Regions from separate parts of the Homo sapiens genome. Here regions 2, 3 and 4 are each reported to be linked to region 1. The links are microRNA targets in miRTarBase. Many come from high-throughput screens and were not tested one by one. Region 1 holds a microRNA gene; each other region holds the end of a gene's coding sequence.

Region 1 (7,126 bases):
CACTTAAAAGTGGCATAAAAGGCCACTTTTATGCATCTCCATTTTAGGTTGGTTACAAGAGGCACAGAGAGACCAAAGCCCATGGGATGCTCGTGAGAGTAGGAAATTGGGTGGGAAGGGTGGACTCGGGAGACAACCTGACATCTCTCTACTTGAAGCCTAGCAATAAGGTTCAAAGGTTCCTCATGCCTTGTTTTCCCTTCTCTCTACATGATTAAGATCCCATTCCTGTAACAGATAGCAATGTGTTTATGCAGTAAAATTAGATAAGGGAGATTACTAGGGAAGTCACTACTCAGTTAGGGATGTCAGTGGTGCTCACTGCAGGTCCAGGTTAGTAATAAGAACTCTGGACTAGTAGCTAGGAGTGCTTGAATCTAGATTAGTTCTACTTTCTAACTCGATGTGTGACATTTTTTCCACTTAATTTTTTTGGCCTTGGTTATCTTATTGGAAAAAATATTCAAGTTGCACAAATAACTAAATGATGCCTGAGTTTTCATTCAGTTCTAAAACTTCTCAACTGAGCAATCTGTTGTTGAAAGGAGAGTACGAGTTCTAAAAGCTACTCTAGGGAGCTCTGCATTCACCAAGCCGCTCCATCATTGTTGGGAAGAAAATACTAAGGTTGACTCATTGTCAAAGCCACATTCTACTCAAACTCAATGTACATAACTCGAATTCTAGCCACATTCCAGCCAAATTGAGATAGCTGTTCAAATAGTCATGGATTTATTTAATAACTGACTTCGAAATTCTTTACTTCTTTCAAGGTGGCATTAACAAGTATTTCGGAATTTCAACAGAGATCGGTTTTCACGTGCTCTTCAATGATCCCTGTGAAATAAATCATATTCAAGGGTTTTTTTCCCCTTATGAGTTATTCGCCTGAAGGAAGAATTCTTCATTTCTTTTTCTTTTAAATGCATGTTGGAATAAAGTCTTCTTTGAAAAGTCTTAATGAAAAGAGCAAACGTGGAATAGCATCCACCCCAGTTCTTTCTCTGGTCCTTGCACTCTGAGAATGAAGTCTTAGACAGCAGAATGTCAGGGGACTCTCATTGCGTAAAAGTCTGTGCCCTTCTGCGCCTTGGACAGTTATGGACAGAAGCCTTTAAGAAGAAGAAAATTAAAACTAGTTAATTTTTTAGTTAATTTTAGCAACACTACATATATGAGAGAGAGAAAAGATGGCATTTTCTGAATGAATGAGATGCCTCTGCATTTTGCCCAACTCATTGGAGACTCAGGATAGAGAAAAGGGAGAAATTATGTTTAGAGGCTGATAAATTTCCCTATGGTTACTATCAAGAGATCAGACTCTTATTAACATTTGCAAAGTGTGAGCAGAGAAGAGCATTTGAACAATAAGCATAGATTAAGTACTCCTCTTTCCTTCATTCCCTTTTCTCTAGTCATATTCTCAGACAGTCCAGGCTAAGTATTAATGATCTTCTTTGAAGTTAAACATACCCTTGCTACTTTCATTACATTATTATTTTTATGTTCTTCCTTTTGGAGTACTCAAGGTAAATGACATGGCAGAATCTGTCCCAGTCCAGTGAGGGTGTCACATAAGAGGCCCTTGGCTTACCTCTATGCATAACTGGCCCACGTCACATCTTTAATTAGAAGTCCAAGTTATTGGCTGGACGCCATGGCTCATGCCTGTAATCCAAGCACTTTGGGAGGCCAAGGTGGGTGGATCACCTGAGGTCAGGAGTTCGAGACCAGCCTGGCCAACATAGTGAAACCCTGTCTCTACTAAAAATGCAAATATCAGCCGGGTGTGGTGGCACATGCCTGTAATCACAGCTACTCGGGAGGCTTGAGGCTGGAGAATCGCCTGAGCACACGAGATGGAGGTTGCAGTGAGCCGAGATCGTGCCACTGTGTTCTAGCCTGGGCGACAGAACAAGACTCTGTCTCAAAAAAAAAAAAAAAGTCCAAGTTACTGTTGCAGGGATTGGGACATCTTGCCTTTCTCAAGTTGAGCAATATTCCCAAATATAAAAATGTAGGATCTTAGTCCAATCAGAGCAGATATTTGGTGTAGGGCATTTTCTAATGTAGTACCAATAAATTAGACGCATACCTCAACCAAAAAACAGCCCATATCCAGTAAGTAATAAGGCAATGATTTACATTTCACATATTACCAGAGTAATGACTAATAGCATACATGTATAAACTGAAAAGTGACTGATGCTTATTTTCAGATGGGTCCAAATTTATTGGATAATTATGGAGAATAATGTATGTTTTCTGAGAGTTGGTAGTAAGAAAATATTGCCATTGCTGGCCAGGCACAATGGCTCACACCTATAATCCCAGCATTTTGGGAGACTTGAGGTCAGGAGTTCATGACCAGCCACCTCAGCCTCCCAAGTAACTAGAACTACTGGTGCATGCCACCAAGTCCAGCTAATTTTTTTTTTTTTTTGAGACGGAATATTGCTCTGTCACCCAGATTGGCTGTGTTCTCCATTCTAAGTCCAGTGGTTAGAAATTGTCAAGTTCTCACATCTGCAAAAAAAGTAAAAAAGATGAACCTGCTACATCTAAATATACTTTGTTGTCTTCCTACAAGTCCTATTTTACATACTTATGGCATTTTTACTGCAGTTTGAAAATACAGTCAATTCTTGTTATTCACAGTATTGATGTTCTATAAACTTGCCCTAAATACTGCATTAGTGAGTCCTGAATTTATTAGTTAATACTGAATTTCCTAGGGGAAATACAGGGTTAGGTTCCTGTGAGTCTTTGGTTACCTTTTTATCAACCAATCAACAAAAATCCTTATTTTACCTGTGTTTTTGTTTGAAGACACCTTTTAAAATATATATTATTGATTCATTAGCATTGAACTAAGCTTATCTAATGCACTTATTTTTTGTGTAAGGTGTATCACAGCCTTCTTGAGCCTAGGAATGCCAAATAGTACTTCCACACCATACTTAAGGGCCATTTCATTTTATTTCTTATTTTTAAAATTTATTCTCTTTTCTTATTTAAAGAAAAAATTTGTAGATGCCGGGTCTCGCCCTCTTGACCAGGCTGGAGTGCAGTGACACAATCACAACTCACTGGAGCCTCAAACTCCTGGGCTCAAGTGATCTTCCCACCTCAGCCTCCCAAATATCTGGGACTACAGGCACACGCCACCATGCCCAGCTAATTTTTTAATTTTATTTTTTTGTAGAGGCAGGGTCTGGCTATGTTTTTGAGGTCTTAATTCCCCAATGAACATGACTAGTATATTCCAGGCTGGTCTTGAACTCCTGTCACAAAGCAATTCTCTTGCCTTAGCCTCCCAAAGTGCTGGGATTTCAGGCATGAGCCACTGCACCTGGCTTGGACCATTTTAAATAGTGAAGTCACTCACACACACATACACGCATGCAGGTGCACACACAGACACAAAAAGACACAAAAATGCGAAACTTGTGGCACTAAAAAGACTGTGGAAAGGGTGCTTCCTTACAGTATGAAAACTGAAACAAAAAAGCAGAGTGTTGTTTAGTTAGACGCCACCTGGGAACGTGCTTGTTGGGAAACTCCAGTTGTCCACTGTCCTGCCATGTCTATGATGACTGCAAACATTTGGGAGTATTAATTTGAGGGTCACAAACAGATTTTAGGTGATGGGCATATTTACAAATACAGAATCTGCTAGTAATGAGGACTGACTGTATAATGCTTTAGTAGTCTCAAGTATGTTTTTTTTCTCATTAAGCCTTTGCTTAAGATGCAGGCAAGATTGATGCTGTTGGTTTGGTGCAAAAGTAATTGCAGTGCTTCCCATTTAAAAGTAATGGCACACACTGCAATTACTTTTGCTCCAACTTAATACTTGGCTTTATTGACTTTTAGCATCAGTGCAGTTTGGTTAATGATAAAATTTTCCAAAGCAGTGTCTCATCTGCAGGAGCAAACTATAGCAAGGGCCCTGGCCATCAGTTCTCCCTTCTGGTCCTGATATTCCTTTTTAAACTGTCTTTCCATACCCCTCCCTCCAGTGGGCTTGGCGATGTTGCATTAAATAGCAAAGAGAAGGAAACTCCTCCCCAGTCCTCACTGACCATTTCTTTTTCCACTCAGTCCTGCTCAGAATGTAGAAGAGAAGTTGAATTTAATTCATAAATTCAGCAGCTTGAGGACTGTCAGTTTTGTCGTTATTTAGTGAAATAGTAATTGAATTGGGCTACAAGGTCATTGGAATCTGCTGTTTCATTTCATATCATTTTACGTGTTATTATTCTAATAAGAATACAAATGGAGTTTGATGCCATTTGCTGATCATCCATCTTATTGATGCCATTGAACAGAACGCAGAAACACAAAGGGATTTATAAGGCATTTCAGTTTTGATGTCCTTTGAAAAATGAAAGTCTTTTCAGAAATGCAAAAGACAAAATGACTTAGAATTCCATCTCGTTCTGCCCGGTTTGAGGGCATCCCTTCCTATTCCTTAGATAGCTGTTAATAAGAGTCCTGAGGAAAACTGGGTTTGAATTTAAAAACAAAAAATTTTTAAGAGACAGGGTCTCGCTTTGTCACCCAGGCTGGAGTGCAGTGGCACAATCATAGCCCCTGTAACCTTGAAGTCCTGGACTCAAGTGATGCTCCCACCTCAGCCTCCCTAGTAGCTGGAACTACTGGCACATGCCATCAAGTCCAGCTTTTTTTTTTTTTTTTTCTGAGATGGAATCTCACTTTGTCACCGAGGCCGTAGTGCAGTGGCGCGATCTCGGCTCACAGCAACCTCTGTCTCTCAAGTTCAAGTGATTGTCCTGCCTCAGCCTCCTGAGTAGCTGGGACTACAAGCATGTGCTACTACGCCCAGCTAATTTTTGTATTTTTAGTAGAGACAGGGTTTCACCATATTGGCCAGGCTGGTCTGGAACTCCTGACCTTGTGATCCGTCCGCCTCAGCCTCTCAAAGTGCTGGGATTACAGGCATGAGCCACCACACCCAGCCAAGTCCAGCTAATTAAAAAAAAAATAAAAATCGTAGAGATGGGGTCTCCCCGTGTTGCCCAAGCTGGTGTCAAATTCCTGACCTCAAGCAATCCTCCCACCTCGGCCTCCCAAAGCTCTATGATTATAGATGTGAGCTGCCATGCCTGGCCTTAAATTTTTCAAAAGCTTTTAAACCAATCTTAAAATGTTTTATCCTCTTAGAATCATGTCCCTAGTTTTATAGCTTGGAAATTCTTGCTCTTTTCAAATTGCTCTTTAACTCTGGCCTGATTGGAAGGTGGCAGCTTTTCAAATACAGGTCATGGCAGCGCTCAACCTGGATTCCTCAGTTGCAGAAGACTGCTTTTGCTAGACTGCTGAATTTACTTCCAACTTTTCAGATGTTTCTGAGGTTGACCCTGGTGTGGTTCCCACTCAAAGTGGAGCAAGCAGGTGGGTGGCAGGTCTCTTCTTAGCGGCTTCCTAGAGGGAAGCCTCGTGAGTGGGATGGGGGACAGGTTGCCCTGGGGGAGCCCAGGAATGGGGAGACAAGGCCACCTGCTATGCAGATGATATAGTTTGGCTGTGTACCCACCCACTTCTCATCTTGAATTGTAGTTCCCATAATCCCCACATGTTGTGGGAGGAACCTGGTGGGAGGTAATTGAATCATGGGGGCGGTTTTCCCCATGCTATTTTCATAATAGTGAGTGAGTTCTCATGAAAGCTGATGGTTTTATAAGGGGCTTTCCCTTTCACTGGGCACTCATTCTTCTCCTTGCTGCTGCCATGTGAAGAAGGACGTGTTTGCTTCCCCTTCAACCATGATTGTAAGTTTCCTGAGGCCTCCCCAGCCCTGCAGAACTGTGAGTCAATTAAACCTCTTTCCTTTATAAATTACCCAATCTCAGGTTTGTCCTAATCGCAGCATGAGAATGGCCTAATACAGTAGGTTTTCCTGAGTCCTCTCTCTGACTCACCCTCTGACGGGCAAAAGACAGTGGCAGCACTGCCAGCAATCAGCTGGGAACTTCTCCCCTGTGATAGAAAGCAGTGCTTGCTGGCTTCCCTTTGTGATGCTTTTGGACAGCAGCTCTATGGACCTATGCCTTTTGTCCTTTGAGGACGGACGCACAGTCTGTGCAGCTCGAGGACGCCGTCATGGGTGAGATGCTGTGGAGTGTGATGACGCCACCTCTTAGGCTGTGTGTGAAAGTAGCGAGGAGAGGCAGGGTCTGCATGAGCCACTTTGGAGCAGGCCAAAACACTGTGGAGAAGCACATTACAGCCACAGTGGCGGTGTAAAGGGTCAGACTGACCACTGGCTTCTGGAAAGTCTTCATTTCTGAAAGACTGTCAGGTAGAAGATGGATGAGAGTTACTCTGTGAGGCCGGAAACCTAGAACTCAGACCATTGTGTGCAGACCAGGGAGAGGCAGTGTTTGGAGTGAGATAAGCAGGAATTTTGAAATTACACAGACCCGGTTTTGAATTTACTCATGAGCTGTGTGGCTTAGAGAAAGCTGTTTAATCCCACTGACCTTCATCTGTGAAGTGTCCAAAAATAATACAGAGCTTGCAGAGTTGTGTGGATAAGGGATAATCTATCGAAAGCATGTGGCAAGTGGCAGACACAATGTGGGCACTAGGCAAGTGGCAAGTCCCTTGTATTGAGTCTTATTTGTCTATTCAGTGAATATTTGGATACCAACTCTGCTGTTCTGGGCATGATGTTAGCCACTGGGGAGACAGAAGGAATGAAAGAGATGAGTAACCTAATGTGTGCTGTCTAGTGGGGACTGCAAATAAAGTGGGTGTTACCACTAGCGTGCTCTACAGTGTTATGCTAGAGAGAAATTTACTTCCTTTGGCCACTCACTTCCTTGTTTTTAAATAAGAACTGAGTTAAAGTTGCTAACTGTGAAGACTGAGTAATTTGAATCTGCTGTTGGTGTACTCAGATTACTTTTTTTTTTTTTTTTCTTGGAGACAGAGTCTCACTCTGTTGCTCAGGCTGGAGTGCAGCGGCCCAATCTCAGCTCACTGCAACCTCTGCCTCCCAGGCTCAAGCGATTCTCATGCCTCAGCCTCCTGAGTAGCTGGGATTACAGTCACGGGCCACCACTAATTTTTGTATTTATAGTAGAGACAGGGTTTGCCA
Region 2 (7,126 bases), not on the chromosome of region 1:
CCGTCTCCTCATGTGCCCTATAAGTTACTGCACCTGGTGTGGATACATGCCCGCCATTTAGCAGGGTACAGGCAACAGGATGCCCACGAGTTCCTCATTGCAGCGTTAGATGTCCTGCACAGGCACTGCAAAGGTGATGATGTCGGGAAGGCGGCCAACAATCCCAACCACTGTAACTGCATCATAGACCAAATCTTCACAGGTGGCCTGCAGTCTGATGTCACCTGTCAAGCCTGCCATGGCGTCTCCACCACGATAGACCCATGCTGGGACATTAGTTTGGACTTGCCTGGCTCTTGCACCTCCTTCTGGCCCATGAGCCCAGGGAGGGAGAGCAGTGTGAACGGGGAAAGCCACATACCAGGAATCACCACCCTCACGGACTGCTTGCGGAGGTTTACGAGGCCAGAGCACTTAGGAAGCAGTGCCAAAATCAAATGTGGTAGTTGCCAAAGCTACCAGGAATCTACCAAACAGCTCACAATGAATAAATTACCTGTCGTTGCCTGTTTTCATTTCAAACGGTTTGAACATTCAGCGAAACAGAGGCGCAAGATCACTACATACATTTCCTTTCCTCTGGAGCTGGATATGACGCCGTTTATGGCCTCAAGTAAAGAGAGCAGAATGAATGGACAATTGCAGCTGCCAACCAATAGTGGAAACAACGAAAATAAGTATTCCTTGTTTGCTGTGGTTAATCACCAAGGAACCTTGGAGAGTGGCCACTATACCAGCTTCATCCGGCACCACAAGGACCAGTGGTTCAAGTGTGATGATGCCGTCATCACTAAGGCCAGTATTAAGGACGTACTGGACAGTGAAGGGTATTTACTGTTCTATCACAAACAGGTGCTAGAACATGAGTCAGAAAAAGTGAAAGAAATGAACACACAAGCCTACTGAAGTGACACACAGACCTACCTGCAATGGAAGATGACGACACCAATACTACAACTGGCATCGAGATCTAAAGGACCTACTTGACCATGGCCCATGGGCCTGACAGAGTAAGAATTGAACAGTACCCAGTGTCCAAAAGGTCCTGATTGGAAGAGAAATAGAAGGGGAGGGAGAAGAGGCTCTAGTCTAAGCAGTTGATGAAAGGGAAATTAAATGGTAGAAACACTCTGGGTGAGGAAGGCAGGAGCAGGAAAATGCTGACACTGGTACATATCCTATATTCCTCCAAAAGATTGTGTGGGAAAGTGTGGGGGGGAGGGGGGTGGTGGGGGGGGAGTGTGCCCTTGTAACCGTAAAACATCTTTCTCCATGGGTGTTTCAGCTTCAATTGACCAATCACATAACAGTTATATGTTTGGGGGGAAAAAGAAAAGTTTCTAAAAAATGTAGCCCATTACATATATGGGTATGAAAGCAGAAAAGTGGAGGAGGCAGGGATATCATTGACAAACACCTTTGCCAGTTTCTTTGTATTCGTGATTTTTTGTGCTATTAAATGCAGTATTAAAACAAGAAAAGCCCACCTGGGCTAGTGAAAGGAGAGGAAATAAGGGGGCTTGTAAAAGGGGAGCCGTCGCTCCAAAAGTAGAGAAGACAAGAAATGCTGTAAGATAAGCAACCAACGCAGACAGGCCTCAGCTAAGAGTATAGTGTGTGTGTGTTAAAAAAAAAAAAAAAAAAAGAAAAAAAAAAGCTGTATGATATACTTGAGCAAATCAATGAACCTCTTTGCGATTGTTTTATCATCTGTAAAATGCAGATAATTCCTACCTTAAAGGGTTATTGTTAAAGATAAAATGATATAAAAATGTGTCAAAGTATAAAGTAAAAGGCTTGGAACTTTGTAGGGACTCAGTAAACGTTTGTTGGATCCAAACCTGAAACTTCTTTGGACCAGGCCCAGAATGCATCAGAGGTGGGGGTCAGTCCTGCCTGAGACCCCTGGACAGAAGGGACACACATCATGTCACATACAGTCACACACACATTCTCCACAACTCCCTCCCCAATGCTGTCTATTTAGAGTACCAAGGCAATGAACTCCACTTTTGTCCCTTGTGTGCAGGGCATCACAGTGGGTGCCACCTGGGATTGGGGGTGGAAAGGACCACAGCTGTCCCATAAGGTCATTATTCTGTCCTTTTGGAGGACAGTCATGTTGCTTTCATGATTCAGATCCCAGTGATGGGACTCTCATGGCCAGTAGGCTGCCAGGCTTGCACACGAGGGAATTTGGTGGTCTTCGTCTTCTAAAAACATTATGGGTTCGGTTGCTATGTTTACTCACAGGCACAGATCAGTAGAAAGACTGTTTTCCAAAGTTCACTGGCCCATCAGCCCAGGGATATTGATAGAGTGGCTTGTTGGCCCCTTCCCTGATACTGTCAGAGGGCAGAGCAGCCTGCAGAGAGCTAAGCCAAAACAGATGGGATGAACCCAGGATGGGGTAAGCACTATGAGTCCTTCTCTCATCAGCATCAGGTACAAAAGTAATTGTTACCTAGATAATCCTGGAGGGAAATTGAATGCGTATCACATCCATGGGGCTTGGATCCACTGGCTCTGGTAAAAGGCTGGGCTCCCCATTGCTTCCCAAGTCTACTTCATGGTCAACTCATTTGGAAATATATGTTTATTTACGTGGCTGTGGGTGCATCACAACTAGCTTATAGGCTTTTTTAGGACAGGAGTTGTGTCTCCTCTTGTACCTTGGGATGCATTCTCATTCCCTTAGCTCCTGTCACATGGTAAGTAGGTATTCAAAACATTTACTGAATGAATGAATGGATGGATGAGTTAATGAACCAATACACCTTCCTTTCATAACCGAGATTTCATTAACACCTAGGGCTCATAATTTTCAGGAGAAAATGTAAAAAGTTGTTATTTTTGGTGTCTTGTAGGATGGGGGAGCTCAAGAGATGGGTGACTTTGGATGGCACTTGGCAACTTCGTGCAGGGTGTCTGACTACCTTTTGGGATGGGTCTGGTATCCCTACCTGGAAGAACACAGCCATGTCCTCATTCTTCATCTCTGCCAGGGGAAGAGTCCAGGCAGGCCTGTGCCACCAGATCCTGACTGCTTGCACAGAAACTGACCTTTAAAAATTTTAAACATTTTTATTTGGAAATCATTTCAAGTTTACAGAAAAGTTATAAAAAATAGTATAAAGAGCATCTGTATGCTCTATACCAGATTTACCTGTTGGGAAATTTTACCTCATTTGTATTATCATTTGCACATGTGCACTCTTTTATAAATGGGGGTGTGTATTTTTGAACGATATGAAGATAAATTAATTACATATATCATGGCCCTCCATGCCTAAATATGTCAGTGTGCATTTCCTAAAAATAGGCATATTCCCCACATCACTACAGTAGAGCTTCAGAAAATTTAACATTGATAGAATACATTAATCTACGATTTGTATTCCAATTTTGTCTGGTGACCCAGTAAGGTCCTTTATAGCATTTTCCCACTCTATTGCAGGATCTGGTTTAGGGTGAAGTATTGCATTTAGTTGTCATCTCTCTTTAGCCTCCTTTAATCTGGAACATTTCCACAACCTTTCTTCATCTTGTATGACATTCACATTTTTAATAGCACATTCCTCATTTTGGGTTTGTCTGATACAGAAAACCCTTTTAAATACCCTGCACTCAACCATAGTTCTAAGAGGAACTCACTGAGAGCTATGAATGGCAAGAGATGCTGAACCTGACCTCCCTGTCTCGGCTGGTGGAAGGCACAGACCGCCAGGGGGAGCAGCTGTGCTGGGCACTTTCTAATTGAACCTCATGCCTCCTATATCTGGAAAACAGCATTGTCCCTTAGCAACAGGGCAGCCATTCAAGGCCAGTCCTATGCCCCTACGAGTCACTAACCCCCAAATTGAGCAATGGAATGTAACAGCAGCCAGAGCCTGCCTTCAGATCATACCATCGTGGAACCCAAGGCATCATGTATTCAGCAGGTATGTGTTAACCTTGAGCTCAAACTGAGATCCAGGCATGTTTGAGAATGTCTGGCACATGGTCAGGCACCTCCACGATTAGGGCCTTTAGGGGTATCAGGAAGTAGCACCCTTGGCACCTTCACTAACGTTCCCACGGTGAGCACAAATACAGCAGTGGCAGGGGTGGGGAGGGAAGGGGTAACTAGTTCTCAAACAGCTTCATGGTCAGAGTACACAAAGATAGGGGCCCAGAATAAGTAAGAAAGAACATGGGAGATGGTGAAAACGGATTGGTTTGTAACCTACTGGGGACTTGCAGACACAATTGGGTTATTTTTCATGTGGGCTGGAGTTCCTAGATGAGCAGATGGGACAAGAACCAGTGAAATTTAAGCTAATTCTTTTTTTTTTTTTTTTTTTGAGACAGAGTCTTGCTCTGTCGCCCAGGCTGGAGTGCAGTGCAATGGCGTGATCTCAGCTCACCGCAACCTCTGCCTCCTAGGTTCAAGCAATTCTCCTGCCTCAGCCTACCGAGTAGCTGGGATTACAGGCGCCCACCACCACACCCAGCTAATTTTTTGTATTTTTAGTAGAGACAGGGTTTTGCCATGTTGGCCAGGCTGGTCTCAAACTCCTGACTTCAGGTGATCCACCCGCCTTGGCCTCCCAAAGTGCTGGGATTACAGGTGTGAGCCACTGCGCCCAGCTAAGCTAATTCTTTAGCAGAGACTTCATTTACATCCACATACTGTTAGGACTGGGAGACTTGGTTCGTATGTAGGTTTGTGATCTGGACTCAGAGGGGCACAGGTGAAATATGGGTGCTCACAACTGGGGGCATTAACCACCCACAGAGTTCAGAACCATGTACCAAACAATGAGATACTGCCCTGTCACCCATTACACATTTCTTCCCACAATTTCGTGGCATAATTTGATTAGAAATCCAGGACCCTGCCATTTACCATTTCTTGGAGTAGCCAGATGCTAAAACTGACTCTGGCCTGCAGGTCACATTGGTAACTGTCTCACTTATTCACTGTCTACAGGGAATTCTGATCAGGGACGCCATCAACCAAAAGGCCTTTTTCCGATCAAGAAACAGAGTGGCCCCCACGCAACTCTTACTTTCAAATCCAGTAGACCTGGTGCCAGAAACCTGTGTTTCCTCCAAATGTATGTTTCACACCCAGAAACGAAGGCCCAGATCCTCTGAAAGTATGTAGCCCAGCACTCACCACAGTGTGTCATTACACACTTGCTCTGCAGGTGAGACCCAGTGCCATTTTTAAACTCTTATATTGAAGTATATCAAATATACAGGAAAAGTGCACATATCATTTATAACTTGATGAATTTCTACAAAGTAAACATATCCCTGTAAGCAGCATCCAGATCAAGAAACAAAACATTCCCCAGAACTCAAAGACACCTATCTTAACTTCTTTTCACTGTAGATTAGTGTTGTCTGTCTTTAGACCTTCTCTAAATGCAGTTGTTCAGCATGTACTCTTTTATGTCTGGCTTCTTTTGTTCGATAGTCATTTTATGAACTTCAGACCTCGAGTCTTTTTTTTTTTTAAAGTAATACCCTCTCAGAGAGGAGAGAGTGGGCTGGCCTCTGTGAAATGAGATCAGCCTGAAGTCTTTTTGTCAAGAAAAATTAGGAGGAACTTCATTATTTCTGTCTAATGAACTAAGAGTAGGAATCCCTACTCGTCCCTGTGATTTATTTGTTTGTTTGTTTGTTTTATTTATTTATTTTCTTTTGAGATGGGGTCTCACTCTGTCACCCAGGCTGGAGTGCAATGGTGCAATCATGCAGTGTCGACCTCCTGGGCTCAAACAATCCTCCCACCTCAGCCTCCTGATATTGAATCAATTCGGAGGGACTCAGGCCATTGCAAAGTTGTGTCTTTGCCTTGAGAATGTCTATAATCTCACTCAGGTACAAGAAAGTGTCTCAAGAGTGTCTGTAATATCACTCAGGTAAAAGAAAATGGTGGATGGAAAATAACCTTCCAAAGAAGCTTGGGTTAATTTAAGCACCCAAGAAATGTTAATCTTGGGCAACACTTCAGCCTTGTTCCAGTAGCTCCTGAATGCAATATTCTGGTAATTTCTCAAACTTTAATATGCATCAGAGGTCCTCATGTACCAAGAGGGCTCATTAACACACAGATTGCTGGGTCCCACCCCCAGAGTTTCTGGTTCAGTAGATCTGGGATGGGGGCTTGAGAATTTGCATTTCTAACACATCCCCAGGTGATGCCCATACTCCTAGTTCTGGGACCACACTTTGAGAACCACTGATCTATTCGTTATCTCACCTTCCTGGAGTCCAAGGAGTCTATGAAGATGGCCCAGGGAGCACCTTGGAGAGCACTGCAGGGAGCAAGGAAAATAAGTTGGTGAGATCAGAACTCTCAACCCCACTTCAACCAGAGAAGCTCTCCTCTTATTTGTTTGGTATTTGGGGGTTCCAGGTAATACTTGCAGAAAGGGTTCTGCTACTAAACTATTTTAAAGTTGAAACTCACTGTGGTAAGAAATTTTAGACCCCAGGGGAATGATATACTTAAACGACCTGGTGGTGTGTCTGGAAAGTAATCCAGCCTGCTACAGAGGCCTGGCCTCATGTGCACTCACAATCTAGATGGTCCTGAGGGGAGACTTAATTTCTTTAGAACTTAAAGAAGTGGATATTTATGAGGATGGAAATGATAAGGAAGAATGCTTAATTATAAAAAGGTGCCAAATTGTGTGTATAAAACATGGTTTCTTCTGGCAACACAGCACACTAAGATGATATAACTAGTGCCTCGTTCCCACTACAAACATAGATTAACACTAGATCAACTAGAACAAAAATTTACATTTCTAGCTGAGCTTTAAAAAATAAAAATCAAAATCTCTAGGGAAACAAAAGGAAAAACAAAAGGCAGTGTAGTAGTTGTAAACAGACACTGCAGTGTCCTGTGTGGTATTGGTTCCAGATATCAGGCCCTGAGGGCTAGGGACTTGGAGCTGGGAGTCCAATACCCATCCAGGTGCTGACAACACAGCTTCAGGTCCACCACAGGCAGAGGAGCTATAGGTGAAACCTCTGGGTAAAGCCTTTAGTAACTTCTCTTGTCCATTAAAAGGGGGTTGAAGAATAAACAATGAAAGGGCTTATGTTGTCTCTGGAACCACAAGGAGAA
Region 3 (7,126 bases), not on the chromosome of region 1:
AATTTTGTATTTTTAGTAGAGACGGCGTTTCTCCATGTTTGTCAGGCTGGTCTCGAACTCCTGACCTCAGGTGATCCACCCGCCTCAGCCTCCTGAGTAGCTGGGATTACAGGCATGCGCCACCATGCCTGGCTAATTTTGTATTTTTAGTAGAGACGGCATTTCTCCATGTTTGTCAGGCTGGTCTCGAACTCCTGACCTCAGGTGATCCACCCTCCTCAGCCTCCCAAAATGCTGGGATTACAGGGGTGAGCCACCATGCCCAGCCCAGAATGCATTTTAAAAGTAACAACTAGAGGTAGAAAAAGTAGAAACTGGAGGTAGAAGGGTTAGGCACTGGAAGCAGTTATGCGGTAATTGATGTGTAGCTGCAGCTGATGCATCTCTTTGTTTTGTTTTGTTTTTCTCTCTCCAGCTATTTTTTATGAAAATACTGGGAAAGACAAAGATGTGGCATTTTAAAAACACTGGGTTTTTTTTGACAAATTGTTTTGGGATAGAGAATTAAACAATTTTTCCAAAAGTAACTACTAGAATAATAATTAAATTAAAGGAACTGTTGATTTTTTAAATATTGTTATCAAAATCTAGTATTAGAAAACTCTGAGGTTATCAAATCTCATATTTCTTACTATGCTCATAAATTTAAATATTTAAATTACTGGGTACTAGTCTTAAACTCCAAATGGGATGTGCAAAGCTATAGTTTGGCAAGAGACCTCCTGTTATGATATTTTCCCACTTTTGCTTGAGATTATTATCAATCTTTGCTTTAAGTGAGATTCATTTCCCAACCGGGTCCAGTCTTTATTTCAGCAGTTTCATCTTCCTTAAGACCCTCTGAACTGACCTATCTTTGGATATGTACAAGAATTACTAAACACCAAGAAAACCAATGGATAATCTGTGAAGATATCATGGGGCATGAATTTACAGAACTATGCATTTATCTGAAGAAAGACTTATAACCAGTAATGGTGTATTTTTAGTTTTTAGAGTTTTGTTTGCTTTGTTTTGTTTTAATAAATGACATATTCGGCAAAAGTTATAGAAAAGAAGAGCAAATACATTCTAAGAAATTATAATAGAGAAAGGGCCTTAGGGAAGACTGAAAATGGGAATCAGATTCATAATTCCATGATTTTTAAAGAAGCATTTACAGGTTGAGGTTGTCAATCCCTTTATATCCCATGTAACCCAAAGAATAAAAGAACAACATATGGATACAACTTAATATTGCTTTTAATACACATATTCTAATTGATTTTAATTAATTCTACTAATTTTTTTTCTAAACATTTATATATCTTTTTTTCATATTAAAACTGTTTAGGATATGTAAGCCAGGCAGTCTTTGATTCCTGTGTTTAAAAAATGAACTGATTTCTACATTACAATAATGGAAATTGTTGATTTGATTCTAATTCAAGGTTTACAGTGTCCTGAAGGAAGAGGACAATTTATGGTTTGGGAGGTAAAAGCATGCATACCAAATTAGTTTGATGGCAATTATAATTGTATTTCTTTAGGCACAATTACTGAAAAACACTTGTTAAGGACATTTGTCATCTAACAATTATAAATTTGGCAACAGTTACAACAAAACAACAAAAGCTCCAGAATGTTTAAAAGAAATACAGGAAGCAGAGGCATACTTTCAAGTGTCAAAAAGAAATATGGGATGGTTTGAGGAAAGCAAAAGTCTTCTTGTGATGAGGCTGACTAAAATGTCTCTCATAATGGGAAAAGTTTCACTCTCAGACTTGTTAATTTTATTTCATGTTCGAAGACATGCTTATTATAAAGAATATTTAATTTAAGGTTTAACAGTAATTAAGCAAGCAAATATGCAATATTTCAATTAAAGTTGAACTTGTTTTGTCTCTTAAACAAGCGAACTATCTAAAAAGTAGAGGCTGCCTTGTAACTGTTTCCTCTCTCACCAATTGCTACATCTGACTCTCAATCTCATAAACAAATCCATCAATATATAGAGTATAAAATTTGCATGTGAAATGGAGGTATTTTAGAAATGTTCTCCAGTTAATATGGCTTATAATAGCATCAAATGCATGCCTTTCACAGACGGCAAAACTTCTTGGCCAAACCCTGTATTGCTTTTATGAAAATATCAAATATATACATACCTTATTAAATTAGAAATGAGGCCTATACGTCTCAAAGCATAGAATTTAACAGTTGCTAATATTGTCATAATATTTTTCTTGACCTAAAAATAACAACTGTTGAAAATACACACACAAGAATTTTAGAATTTGAGAATATATCTTTTATTTATAGGATGAGAGTGTTAACTCTGAGAGAACATGGTATAATGAAACATATTAAAGACAGCATATTACTTCAATAAGTAACTGTGGTAGTAATGTTATTGTTAATTTGTATAATGTGTGTATATATTTTTCTGCATTTAAATTTTTCATTAATGTTTTTCCTATGAATATGATCAAATTATGACATCTATCATAAATAAATGTCATATTTTATTTATTTTAATTTTATATTCAAATGTTTTATTTTTCATCTTCTTTCCCCACCAAACACACTGATATGTAAATGTAATTGAGACACTTACAACTAATCTATGCAGTGTTGAATGCTGCTCCTGCAAAATACTCCATAAGCTAAAATTAAGTTACTTAGATATGTGGCAAAAAACCATGAATATGTGAGATTATATAGATTTGTTTTATATTAAAATAAATGCACAATATTTTAGCCAGCAATGCAAACTTATTATTTACATAAATCTTATATATTAATTTAGAGTATCATTAAAGTTTGTAAGTGTGCACATTTACACACATACCCATATACATATGCATATGTGTACATACTTATGTATAGTAACTCCTAAAACCTGTAAATGAAGGTTAGGTTTTAAAGGCTAAAAATGTGTACATGGCTGCTACAGGATTATACCTGTAGCATTAATATTGACAACAAGATGGTGTAAATTTGTCAGGCTTTTTCTTTTGATGTCTTAGGCAGTGAGACCACCTGGAAATAAAAATGAGAAATAAATTTAAAAAACACATTTCATAATTAAGATATCCTTTAACTAAGGTATGTCTGCCAACAGTAAGGGAATAACTGATACAAAAAAAGTATGATGGAGCAACTGGCATAAGGGAGTGTAGTATAATGGGAAAAAAAATGTCTGTCATATAGGTACCCCATACTTAAAGTCCTTCTTCTAGTCCTACAAGAATGTGCAAACTTCCTAGGTTACTATTTGTCAGGATCGAGTTACAAAAACAGAAACTATTCTTAGTCTTTCAAAAAAGGGACATTTATCACAAGTAGTTGATCATATAGCTGCATTAGGTATATATGATTTACTGCATTGACATTTCTTTTTAAGATCATTAAATGATATCATACAATTTAGCTGAATAGATATTAGGGAGTGAGAATTTTATTGTTGTTATTGTTTTCTCCTTAGAAATTTTAATAGTATGCTTTGGGAATTATAAGGCTTTTAAAGGGGCTTTTTGTTATTTCTTTAGTGGCCACATATGTTAGTAATAAACAGCCCCTACCCAGTGTATATAGACCTGCTTTACAATATATTGTCACATATATATAGTTGTATATGTGTATATAGTTGTATATGTATATATTGTCATATATGCATATAATCTAAGAGCTTTAATGAACATATTTTATAACATATGTATAATCTGAGAATTGAAAATACTCCATAGACTAACAAATCTAAAAATCACAATTTAAAAATGAAGAAACTGAAAATTTTTTTAAATATTTTAAATAATGTGTACTTTGATTTATATAGGTCATCTCTTTGTGAAGTATATATGCATGCTCACATAGAAACTCATACACACACACACATGCACATAGGCTTTCATAGAAGATAGGTATTTAAAGATGTAAAAATAGAACAAATTTTTTCCACTCTGAATGTGCCCAAATTACCAATGTACTTTTGCTTTGCAAGTGCATACAATCCATTTGAAATATGCATATATTTGTGTATGTGTATATATATGTGTATATATATACACATATACACACGTACACACATATTTTGAAATATATTTCAGAAGATGTATAAATATAATTTACATACAAATATAATCTATATATTTCAAAATATATATTTAGAATGATTTTCAAATAATCTACAGAAAATATTTTAATTGTAAATTTCAGTATGATAACATACAATGTCTGTATTATTAACAAATAAGTACACAACTAAATAAAAATGTTACACTTTTAATATAGCTATAATTTCCGCAAGAATTTGAACTAATGACATAATACCTATGACACATCTCACTAACAGATTGAACAATAAAAGAATTAAATTATTGTCAAAATAATGAGATTCAAGTAATTTAAATGTCAAAACTTTAAAAAATATTTACTTTAAAAATCAGATACTTTTTAAATTAAATTTTATTTTTTGAGCGACATAAGAATTGAACATATTTGGGAGATACATAATAATGTTTCAATACATATAATTTATAGTGGTCAGATCAGAGAAATTAGAGTATCCATGGTTTCAAATATTTATCATTTCTTTTTGTTGGGGACAAAATCTCCTTTTAGCTATTTGAAACTAAATGGAATATAATGTTCTTAACTATAGTCGTCCTACAGTGGTATAGAACACCAGAAATTATTCCTCCTACCAAGCTGTAACTTTGTATCCTTTAACAAATCTCTCTCTAGTCTCCCTTTGCTGCAGCTTTCCCAGCCTGTAGTATCCTCTGTTTTATTTTTTACTTCTATGATATCAATTTTTTTAGCTTCCACATATAAGTAATAACATGCAATGTTTAACTTTCTGTTCCTGGCTTGTTTCACTTAACATATGCCCTCCAATTCCATCCATGTTGTCCTGAATGACAGGAATTCAGTTTTTATGGCTGCATAGTATTCTATTGTGTATATATACCACATTTTCTTTATCCATTCATCTGTTGTTGGACACCTAGGTTGCTCCTATATCTTGGCTATTGTGAATAGTGCTGCAGTAAACATAGGGTTCAAATGTCTCTTTAATATACAGATTTCCTTTTTCCAGTAATGGTATTGCTGGATCATATGATAGTTCTATTTGTAATTTTTGAAGAAAGTCCATGTTGTTCTCCACATGGCTGCTCTAGTTTACATTCCCACCAGCAGTGTCTAAGAGTTCTTTTTTTTTTCCCGCATCTTCACCAATATGTTATTTTTATTTTATTTTGAGACAGTCTCACTCTGTCACCCAGGCTGGAGTGCCTTGGTTTAATCATGGCTCTCTGTAGCCTTGAACGCCTGAGCTGGAGCAACCTCGAGTAGCTGGGACTACCTACTGGCATGTGCCACCACGCCCAGCTAATTTTTACTTTTTAAAATTTTTTTGTAGAGACAGAGTCTCAATATGCTTTTTAGAGACAGAGTCTCAATATGTTGCCCAGATCTCAAACTTCTGAACTCAAGCAATTCCCCTGCCTTGGCCTGTCAAAGTGTTAGGATTACAGATATGAACCACCACGGCTGTCATATTTTTTGTCTTTTTGAAAATAGTCACCTTAATTAGGATGAGATGATATCTCATTGTGGTTTTGATTTGCATTTCTGTATGAATAGTTAATGTTGAGCATTTTAAAAATATACTTATTGACCATGTATATGTCTTCCTTTGGGAAATGTCTGTTCAGATCGCTTTTTCATTTGTTAATCAGATTTTTTTTTTTGCTGTGGTATTTTGTCTTATGCAAATAGTATTGTGAAGTATTAATGAAGTAAGACAATTTTATTCAAGGACCAATCCCATGCAAATACATTCAGAGCTGTTCTTAGTTAATTGCATTTATAATTTATACTTTTTATTACCATGTGCATTTCTCTAAATTTAGTGAAATTTTACTATTTTATATTTTTACTCAGTGTATATACTGTTGCTCATGAATTGTTGGAGTATAATAGTTAACTATCCTTAACTAAGTCTTATTTATTGAATTTATATGTTGCTGTTTTCTATAGGAGATAAGATTCTTTTTTTACAATATGAATGGAATCATTGCTGATTTTCTATGAATATATGAATTGAATTTTCTCAGATAAATCTTATGTTTCTTTTGTGCCCACAAAGACATCTGGATACTCATCAGAAGTGTAAAAATTCCAACTAGAAGAAAAAAGAAATAATTATTATTTCTTTCTTATTTCTATGAAATGTTATATTAGGAAAAGGATCCCTAGCATGTTTAGCTTTTAAGATGTTTCTCAAATGTTGCATAATTTCTTATCAATTTTCATTATTCATACCCATTCCCAAGCAATAGCCAATCAATATCGCATGAATGAGTAAACACAGAAAATACATTAAAAATTAAAAATGAATCTACATATTTTATATACCACTGCCACAAAATATTCCCAAATAAGGATTTATTTTTGTACTTAAAAATTTTCAATAATAGTTGCCTGTATGCATATAATATTCCTCTACATGCACATAATATAATAAACCACATTAATTGTGATTCAAAACTTTTGTACAATATAACAAAATGGATAAAATGGACATTACATATGTCCCTTCTACTATATGGAAATCATGCAATTCAACTTCTTAGTGTGTGTTAAAATGCTCAGTATTCAAGATGAACTCTCATACAACCCAACTCTTCCTTTGAAGACAAAACACATACACATGCCTGTGCACATGCACAAGAAGTTTCAAGCGAAATGCGTTGTTATCAAAACTTCTTCTAAACAAAACTTCATTGCTTAATAAATACATTTGGATTACAATCCCTGGCTTGGATTAAGCAACAATTATACAGAGACAAAGAGCAAAAGTACTTCAATATATTTTAATACTGCTAAAAATCAAACTCAGTATGAAACTATGAAATCCTTTTACAATCATGCTATACTTTAGTACTATAATAACTTTTTCTCAGAAACCATTTATCTTAAAGATGCATTTATTTTGATTAATTATCAGTATATCTAGGTCTTACCTGGCAGTGTTTGTGTCATGACTGTGAAACTAATCCATGATCCAATCTGTTATATTAAAACTTAAATTAGCACATACATAAATGGAATCTAGTAATTTGTTCATTTGTGGCTTTAA
Region 4 (7,126 bases), not on the chromosome of region 1:
CAGCCTCTGGAGATCCTGTGTTGCTACTTGTCATGTTTCTTAGGATCAGCTATCAAGAATAATCTACTTGCTGCCCAGCCTGGCTTCTGTATTAAGTAGTCGGTAATTTTGTAGCTATTGATGAGGGTTCTGAGGCACTTACTTTTTTTACACTGACCTGGTGGTTCAAAGGTGTGGGGATACCAGGGAGGAGGGGCTGTGTGAAAGTCAGAGCTGCGCTTTTTCCTGGTTTTATCCAGTCTGAGTCTCCCACGGAAGAGACGTTTGGGAGTGGGAGGTGAGTGCGGATGGATCTAAATATATCTCTTCCCAGCCACTTTGAAAACTGTTTTTCTAACTTGTGCTTTTTCTGAAAGAGTTTTTTCTCTTTGTTACCAAATTATGCAGGCAGAGGTAGACATTTCTGTACAGACTTGCCTAGTGGTGTTAGTGGAGGCGGTGTCATCACTTGTCTTTCTTTCTTTCAGACCGGAACATGAACATTTTGCAGTACTGCCCCTCTTCCGACATGTGGACGCTCTTTGAAACATGTGACGTCCACATTCGCAAGCAGCAGATGGTGTCTGTGGAAGAGACCATCTACATCGTGGGGGGGTGTCTCCACGAGCTGGGGCCCAACCGCAGGAGCAGCCAGAGCGAGGACATGCTCACCGTGCAGTCCTACAACACCGTCACCCGCCAGTGGCTCTACCTCAAGGAGAACACGTCCAAATCGGGTCTTAACTTGACTTGTGCGCTCCATAACGACGGCATCTACATCATGAGCAGAGACGTCACCCTGTCGACCAGCTTGGAACACCGAGTGTTCCTCAAGTACAACATCTTTTCAGATAGTTGGGAAGCATTTCGGCGTTTTCCAGCTTTTGGACATAACTTGCTGGTTTCTTCTCTTTATCTGCCCAATAAAGCAGAAACATGACTGAATTGAATTGGTAGATGAAAAAAACCTGGTTCAAGTTTTTTTTAAAATGTGGTGTCCCATTCCAAGGGAGACCAATTCCTAAAGGGTAAAGAAGGGTTAAAGTAGGTCACATATATACAGTAGCAGCTGTAAATAAGCTTACTTGAACTAATTACTTGAAAACTGGTGGAAAAAAGAGACCAACTTTGTTATTTTTTAAATTATTGATTTTTAAATTATGGGAGCAAATCCATCTCCAAACATGATACTCTTGGGCCAATGACGGATCATCAAAATGTAGATTCATTGTGTCTGTGTGGTAAAGGGCCAAAGTCAATAATTGGGACAAATGGTAAAGATGATTTTAAAATCTGTTGTATTTAGGTCCCTTGACATATCATTAGCACCTTAAGTGAGAGGTTTTCTTTTTCTTATCAGTGTCCTTGACAAGCATTCATATTAACATATTCATTCTCTCTTCTCCATCACCCATACCCACACATACATCTAGTATGTTTAGGGTTCTGTGTTCAGATATTTTGTTTGCACACTACTTTTTAGGAAACTTATAATGATGGAGCCCTACAGTGAATCCTTACCAGTGTTCAGTCCTCCCCAAAACTTGCATAAAAATATTCTTAGCTATTTTTCCAGCCTTTTTTGCAGTTACAAATGCTGGATAAATAGACTGATAAAACCTCTTATTTTATTTATGTGGCAGGTTGCATATTTATGTGGACACATAGGTTGCACTGCTAGGCATTCTGTATTGTTTTAAAGAGGATATATTATTTAGAAAAATGGACATATGAATATTATTAAAAATTGAGTCTTAAATTTAAATGGGAAGGGAAGAAAACACCAAATAAGAAAAAAATTTGCCTTTAAGAGTTACTTTTGTTGAATGTATTTGACTTAGTTCTTATTTTAAGGCTAAAAAAACTTTGTCATATTTAAGTCGGCAGCTTTCTAATTTAATCTTAGCTTTGTAATTCATGTTTTGCTTTTGTGGACTAAGGTAAGGACAGCATTTAAATATTTGTGCTGGAGTGAGGGGAAGAAGCTGTTACAGAAGTGGAATGGTTTCTGGTGGTATTTCTGAAGTTAGGTAAAGTGCTTTACTTGCCTTGGTTGTTAATTGAAATAGAATTCAGCTCAAGCAGTTGTTTTCAGTGAGTGAGTTAACAATAAAAGCTTCTGCCAATCATAGATCAACATTCCTCAAAAATACATACACTCATACTTATGGAAATTTTATTTTGATTGAAAACACTCTGAAATTATCTGATATTTTGTAATGGCATCAGTTAAACTGTGAGCTGGATTCCATCTTTCTGCAGTAACAGCGGGCAGAACCATTTCAGTTAGCATGTGCCTCACTTTAAGAAAGTCCTGTAGGGGAAAAAAAAAACTGTCAGAGCGAATTCATGCATTCAACAAACACTTATGAGTGCCTGGAGTATGCCGTCCACTGTGCAGATGTAGGACAGGGGCTAATCACTTAGAGTTCTTCAGTTTATTAGAGGAGTGACTACAGGTTTTCTTTACAACCATGGCCTCTAGTATACTTAAAATAAGCGTCCAGTTATAAAAAGCCTATTTGCACAACTTTTTGGGAATACTTCTATTAACTAAAATGAGGTAAGCCATTATTTTGGACATAGAAACAGATCTTTGTATCTTGTCACCAAATAATCTTACCTCTAGTCTACTTACAACTTTGTAAGGGTTTCTAAGCTATGCCCATTTATTCCCAAATATTAAGCCCTTAAAAAAATAAAACCTCTGAACCAAAATCTTCCCAGGAATAGTACTTAATAGATTTTAATGTTAATTTATATTCATTGTAGAATTGAATTTCCAGTGACCTGTAATTTCATTACATATATTTTAAAATCTATTTATTTTAGATGGTGTTAACTTTTCGTTGCTGAAGAGCTTAACTTTTTAAAGGCTTTGTCCTATACATTTAGAAGATGAGTCAGTTGAATTAGTACTGGACAAACAGTTGGAGATTAGTTTGCAAATAAGCATATCATATCAAATACAATATTCCAGCCAACCAGTTAATTCTCTTCCTGGTTACATTCATTGGGTCTATTTGCCTAATGTTGACAATTAGATTCTTGGACCAAGTGAGGGTGTACTCTGATCCACAAAGCTCTTTTATAAACCAGGTTTGAGGTTGTGTGTGTGTGTGGGGGTGTGTGTGTGTGTGTGTGTGTATGTTTGCATATTATAGCTCTCTTTAAGACAGACATCTAAAAAGATTTTGGTTATTCTGGGCTGCCAGCAGTACGTGGGAAAGGTGGAATGTGCAATAGGAACAGATCTGTGCATTTTGTGACATCGTCCTTCCTGCTGTGCACATCAGCTGTGATGACATTTTGAGGGTAGTTTTAATTTAGCTCGGTTCTCTTGTTGGTGCCAGTATTACATTGAAGACTACCTATGATAGAGGCAATGTTGCTTTGAAAATCTCCCTTCAGGCGGAGGTTGCAGTGAGCCGAGATTGTGCCATTGCACTCCAGCCTGGGCGACAGTGCAAGACTCTGTCTCCAAAAAAAAAAAAAGAAAAAAGAAAATCCCCCTTCATCCCCCAGGACTGTCCTTTACTCTTTGATAGTATCCCTCTATTTTCTTCCCAATTCTCTAAATGCTTTATCATTTTTTCCTGAGATGCTTCTGAGGGATGCTGACCTCCCACTATGGGGAAAAGGGTTGCTTGGAGGACCTGGGGTGGCAGCCCCCCGACCAGAAGCACCCTATTTTATAGATAGCAGTCTGAATGGTAGAGAGTCCTGTGTGTGGGTTGTTAGAAGGTTGGTTCTTCCTGTTATTCTCTCTGGCTTTCCTTTCAACCCACTTATTTTCAGAGGCCTCTCCCCTTAGCATCCTTTAAAAGGTTTTCTGATGAATGTGTGAAAGAGTTGATTATTTCAACAGTATTGGTTAAGTCACAACGACGAAGTGCTGAGAAGGTTATGGGTACCAGGAAGAAACAAACAGAAGTCTTAAGATTAGAATGAGAACCAAAGAGAATTTAACCCTGCCATTTTTTTTTTTTTAACACCAAGATCCTAAGTAATTCCAAATGCCTTAGATATCAATGAAAGCTACACACCATTGAGATGGGCAAAATTCTTTCTCTACAAAGGGAGTAATCAAGTAAATACCTGTTCTCTTTCAATGGACTGTTGCCTATTGAGCATTGTGGATGATGTGTTTTCAGATTTCCAGGTGAAGTTCTGACCCTACCTGTTTGGCCAAAGACGTAAATTGAGAGGAAAGGCCTTGGTCTTCCTGATCAACCAGCATTTAACGAACAGTGGCTTAATGCAGATCACTCAAGAGGCAGCATAGCAATGTAAAAGGAATATAAGTAGGTGTTGGATGCCTTTTTCCTAGACCAGGAATGGGGAATATATAACACCTGTGCCACCGCTCTTTTAAGGAGGCATTATGAATGAGTGCAGCATTCCTGTCCTCTGTGCCAGGATTTGGTCTTAGAATCCATGTCAGATTGGTGCTTCCAGACATCTATTCCCAGTCCATCAGAGTGAAATGAAGGCTATTTGCCATCCCTGCCTTAGACAGAGGAGTGAAAGAATTAAGTGGGTAGACACCAACCAAAATGACTTTGAAAGCAGTGAGCTGATTGAGCTCCAGTTCTGTGGTTACCAGAAATACTGAGTGTCTGTCATGTGCAAGACAATGCTAAGAACAGAATACAGACATAAATAAGTCACGGCCCATGACCTTGAAGAGCTTACGGCCTTATAAAGAGGTTCACTGTAATTGTCTTCACCAGGGCGTCCTTCTCAAAGATGCCCACTTTTGTCTGGCACATTGGGGCTCGGTGGTCTGGTGGTCCCTTCGGTCTTGGCCCTGTCCGTCCTTTGTTTTTGTGATTTACTAACAATCATCACGAACCAGTTTTGTTTTTCTTTTAAATTTGAACATCACATCTTGTGTTTTAGTTTTTTGCTCTATGATTTTTTTCTCACTGCTTTTCAGTCTTCTCTGTACTTCATTTTTGTGAAAAAGTGAAAATCACATATAATCTTTATTTAAAAATGCTCACCAAGCACTGCAGACTTTGGAGTTAGGGATTCAGCAGCTTGTTCCAGTGAAAAGGAGGAGTGAAGCTGGGGAAGTTAGTATCTAAGAGGGGCAAGCTGATTGCATGTGCATTTATACCTATGCCTTTAAAACATTCCCATAAAAAGTATTAATAAAGAAATTTCCATTCCACACTAGTACTGATGAAAAGGTGGTTGATTTTGCCTTGTGATAATTATCAAAGGATAGTTTTTCATCCTTAGATTTTATTCACATGAGAGATTTTTTTTATTTTCTCTGTTGACTTAGGAACACATCATAAATTCACACCAACTGACACGTTGCTGACGTCTGTACTTGACATAACCATTTTTATTCATACAGGAAGCATTAAATATAAAAGATGGTCAGTTTTGAAGAGCAAAGGGTGCTGAAATGACTTGTACGGTTGGCTGGTGCTTTCTCAAATGGATTGCCATAGTTCATTACTAGTAAAGAAAAGGAAAATGTGATTTACGTTGTCATTTTTCCTATTAAAAAAAACCCTTAAGAATGGGGCACTTGAGCTGTCCCTGCAATGTTTTCATATCTAGTAGTCATTTTAGGGAAAGTGATAATCTGTAGAATGAATAGTTATGTTTTGATATGACTGATACTTTCTTTGTTAAAAGGTTGTATTAAGTCTTCAATTTCAAGTCTAGCTTAAAAGTGTAAACATTATGTGATTCATTTGAATACAAGAATGCCTATGAAATACCCACTATAACAGCATTCCTTTTGTGTTTAGAACTATAGAAGAAAATGTCTTCAAATAAAGTAGTTTTCAGTCACTTTTTGTTATCTAAGTTCTATGTATCAGTTACGTATGCAGGGCTGTGCCAGGACTGGGAGGAAATGGGTGAAGTGACTTGGGAGCCTGAGGTGGGAGGATTGCTTGGGGCCAGGAATTTGAGACCAGCCTGGGCAACAGTGAAATCCTGTCTCTACAAAAAATAGAAATAAAAGAAATTAGCCGATACAGTGGTGCATGCCTCTAGTCCCAGCTACTTGGGAGGCTGAGGCAGGAGGATTGCTTGGGCCCAGGAGTTTGGGGCTGCAGTGAGATCTGATTGCACCACTGCACTCCAGCCTGGGCAGACAGTGCAAGACCCCAACTCAAGAAAAATGAAATAAATGGACAACCATTTTCTACACACTCAGGACACACTGATGGAGGAGAAGGAGGATGGCTGACCTAGCAGAGCGACACCCAAATCTAACTGAGCACTTTTTTTTTTCCCAGGAATTATTCTAAGCATTTTTTATTTAAATTATTTAATCCTCACATGAATCCCATGTGGTAAATACAAATATCCTCCGCTTTACAGTTGAGGAAACTGAGGCACTGTAGGTTACAAATTGCCACTTGAGAAAGAGGAGAAGGGAAAACTACATACAGTGGTCACTGGTTTAAAGGGTATCCTTTCTCTTGCTAGTGGAGGAGTGGGTTTCCGAGTGAGCCAGTCTGGGAGCCTCTGGTCCTGCTTTGCAGCAGCGCGTTCCATGGCTGACCTGCCTGGGGGTGAAGTGGCAGCCTCTTCCTGTGGGCATGGTTACAGGAGGTGTGTGGAGGGGCACCTGAACACTTCTGTTGAGGCCAGGGATCCTAGGCTCCTGTTTGTAGGCCATCAACATTTCCTTGGCAATAAAACTTTAAAAACCCATTTGAGGCTGGGCACGGTGGCTCACACCTATAATCCCAGCACTTTGGGAGGCTGAGGTGGAAGGATTGCTTGAGCCCAGGAGTTCAAGGACAGCCTGGGCAATACAATGAGACCCTGTCTCTATTAAAAAAATAAATAAATAAAAACTCAGATGCTGGTAAATCTGATCTCCGGCAACTCCATAGGATAAAGGCCCAGATTTAGAGGAGCCCAGTTTCTTTAACTTAGAGCCCATCTTTATGATGTCTGTCTCTTAGCCACAGGCTTCCTGCCCATGCCTCCACCTTCAGTTTGATGGCGTCAATCTCTCTCTTAGCTTTGGGATAATCTGAAACCATAGGGGTCTGCCGTTCCCAGACTACATCCCAGGGACTGCAGCATTAGTAGAAATGATTACCTCTGTGTGGCAGGAGGTGTTTGGGGAATAAAATACCCACCCTATTTCCTCTTCTTCTTCTTC

The links. The annotated mature microRNA hsa-miR-603 reads CACACACUGCAAUUACUUUUGC and lies in region 1 at 3,822-3,843, shown strand. An mRNA with a match to its seed (bases 2 to 7 or 8) in the 3' UTR can be bound and repressed. Matches are read on the target gene's strand: a 7mer-m8 pairs with bases 2 to 8, a 7mer-A1 pairs with bases 2 to 7 and ends in A, and an 8mer does both.
Region 2: the mRNA of USP27X is a reported target of hsa-miR-603. Seed matches in the 3' UTR shown: 7mer-m8 at 1,613-1,619.
Region 3: miRTarBase lists TECRL as a target of hsa-miR-603. Seed matches in the 3' UTR shown: 7mer-A1 at 4,061-4,067, 7mer-A1 at 4,053-4,059 and 7mer-A1 at 3,863-3,869.
Region 4: the mRNA of KLHL42 is a reported target of hsa-miR-603. Seed matches in the 3' UTR shown: 7mer-A1 at 3,121-3,127.

Annotation. Positions count from the first base shown.
Region 1 is chr10:24,271,924-24,279,049 of GRCh38, forward strand. MIR603 (microRNA 603) reads left to right here and starts at 3,762; the gene lies at 3,762-3,858. The region is part of intron 2 of KIAA1217; the gene reads left to right.
Region 2 is chrX:49,880,719-49,887,844 of GRCh38, forward strand. It overlaps USP27X (ubiquitin specific peptidase 27 X-linked), which reads left to right. Exons shown (of 1, transcript NM_001145073.3): 1 at 1-1,840. The coding sequence ends at 906. Among named protein-coding and RNA genes, the nearest start is that of USP27X, 4.8 kb to the left of the region's middle.
Region 3 is chr4:64,274,031-64,281,156 of GRCh38, forward strand. TECRL (trans-2,3-enoyl-CoA reductase like) reads right to left here. Exons shown (of 12, transcript NM_001010874.5): 11 at 7,011-7,056; 12 at 3,672-6,169. The coding sequence ends at 6,042. Among named protein-coding and RNA genes, the nearest start is that of TECRL, 130 kb to the right of the region's middle.
Region 4 is chr12:27,797,248-27,804,373 of GRCh38, forward strand. It overlaps KLHL42 (kelch like family member 42), which reads left to right. Exons shown (of 3, transcript NM_020782.2): 3 at 468-5,793. The coding sequence ends at 919. Among named protein-coding and RNA genes, the nearest start is that of MANSC4, 21 kb to the left of the region's middle.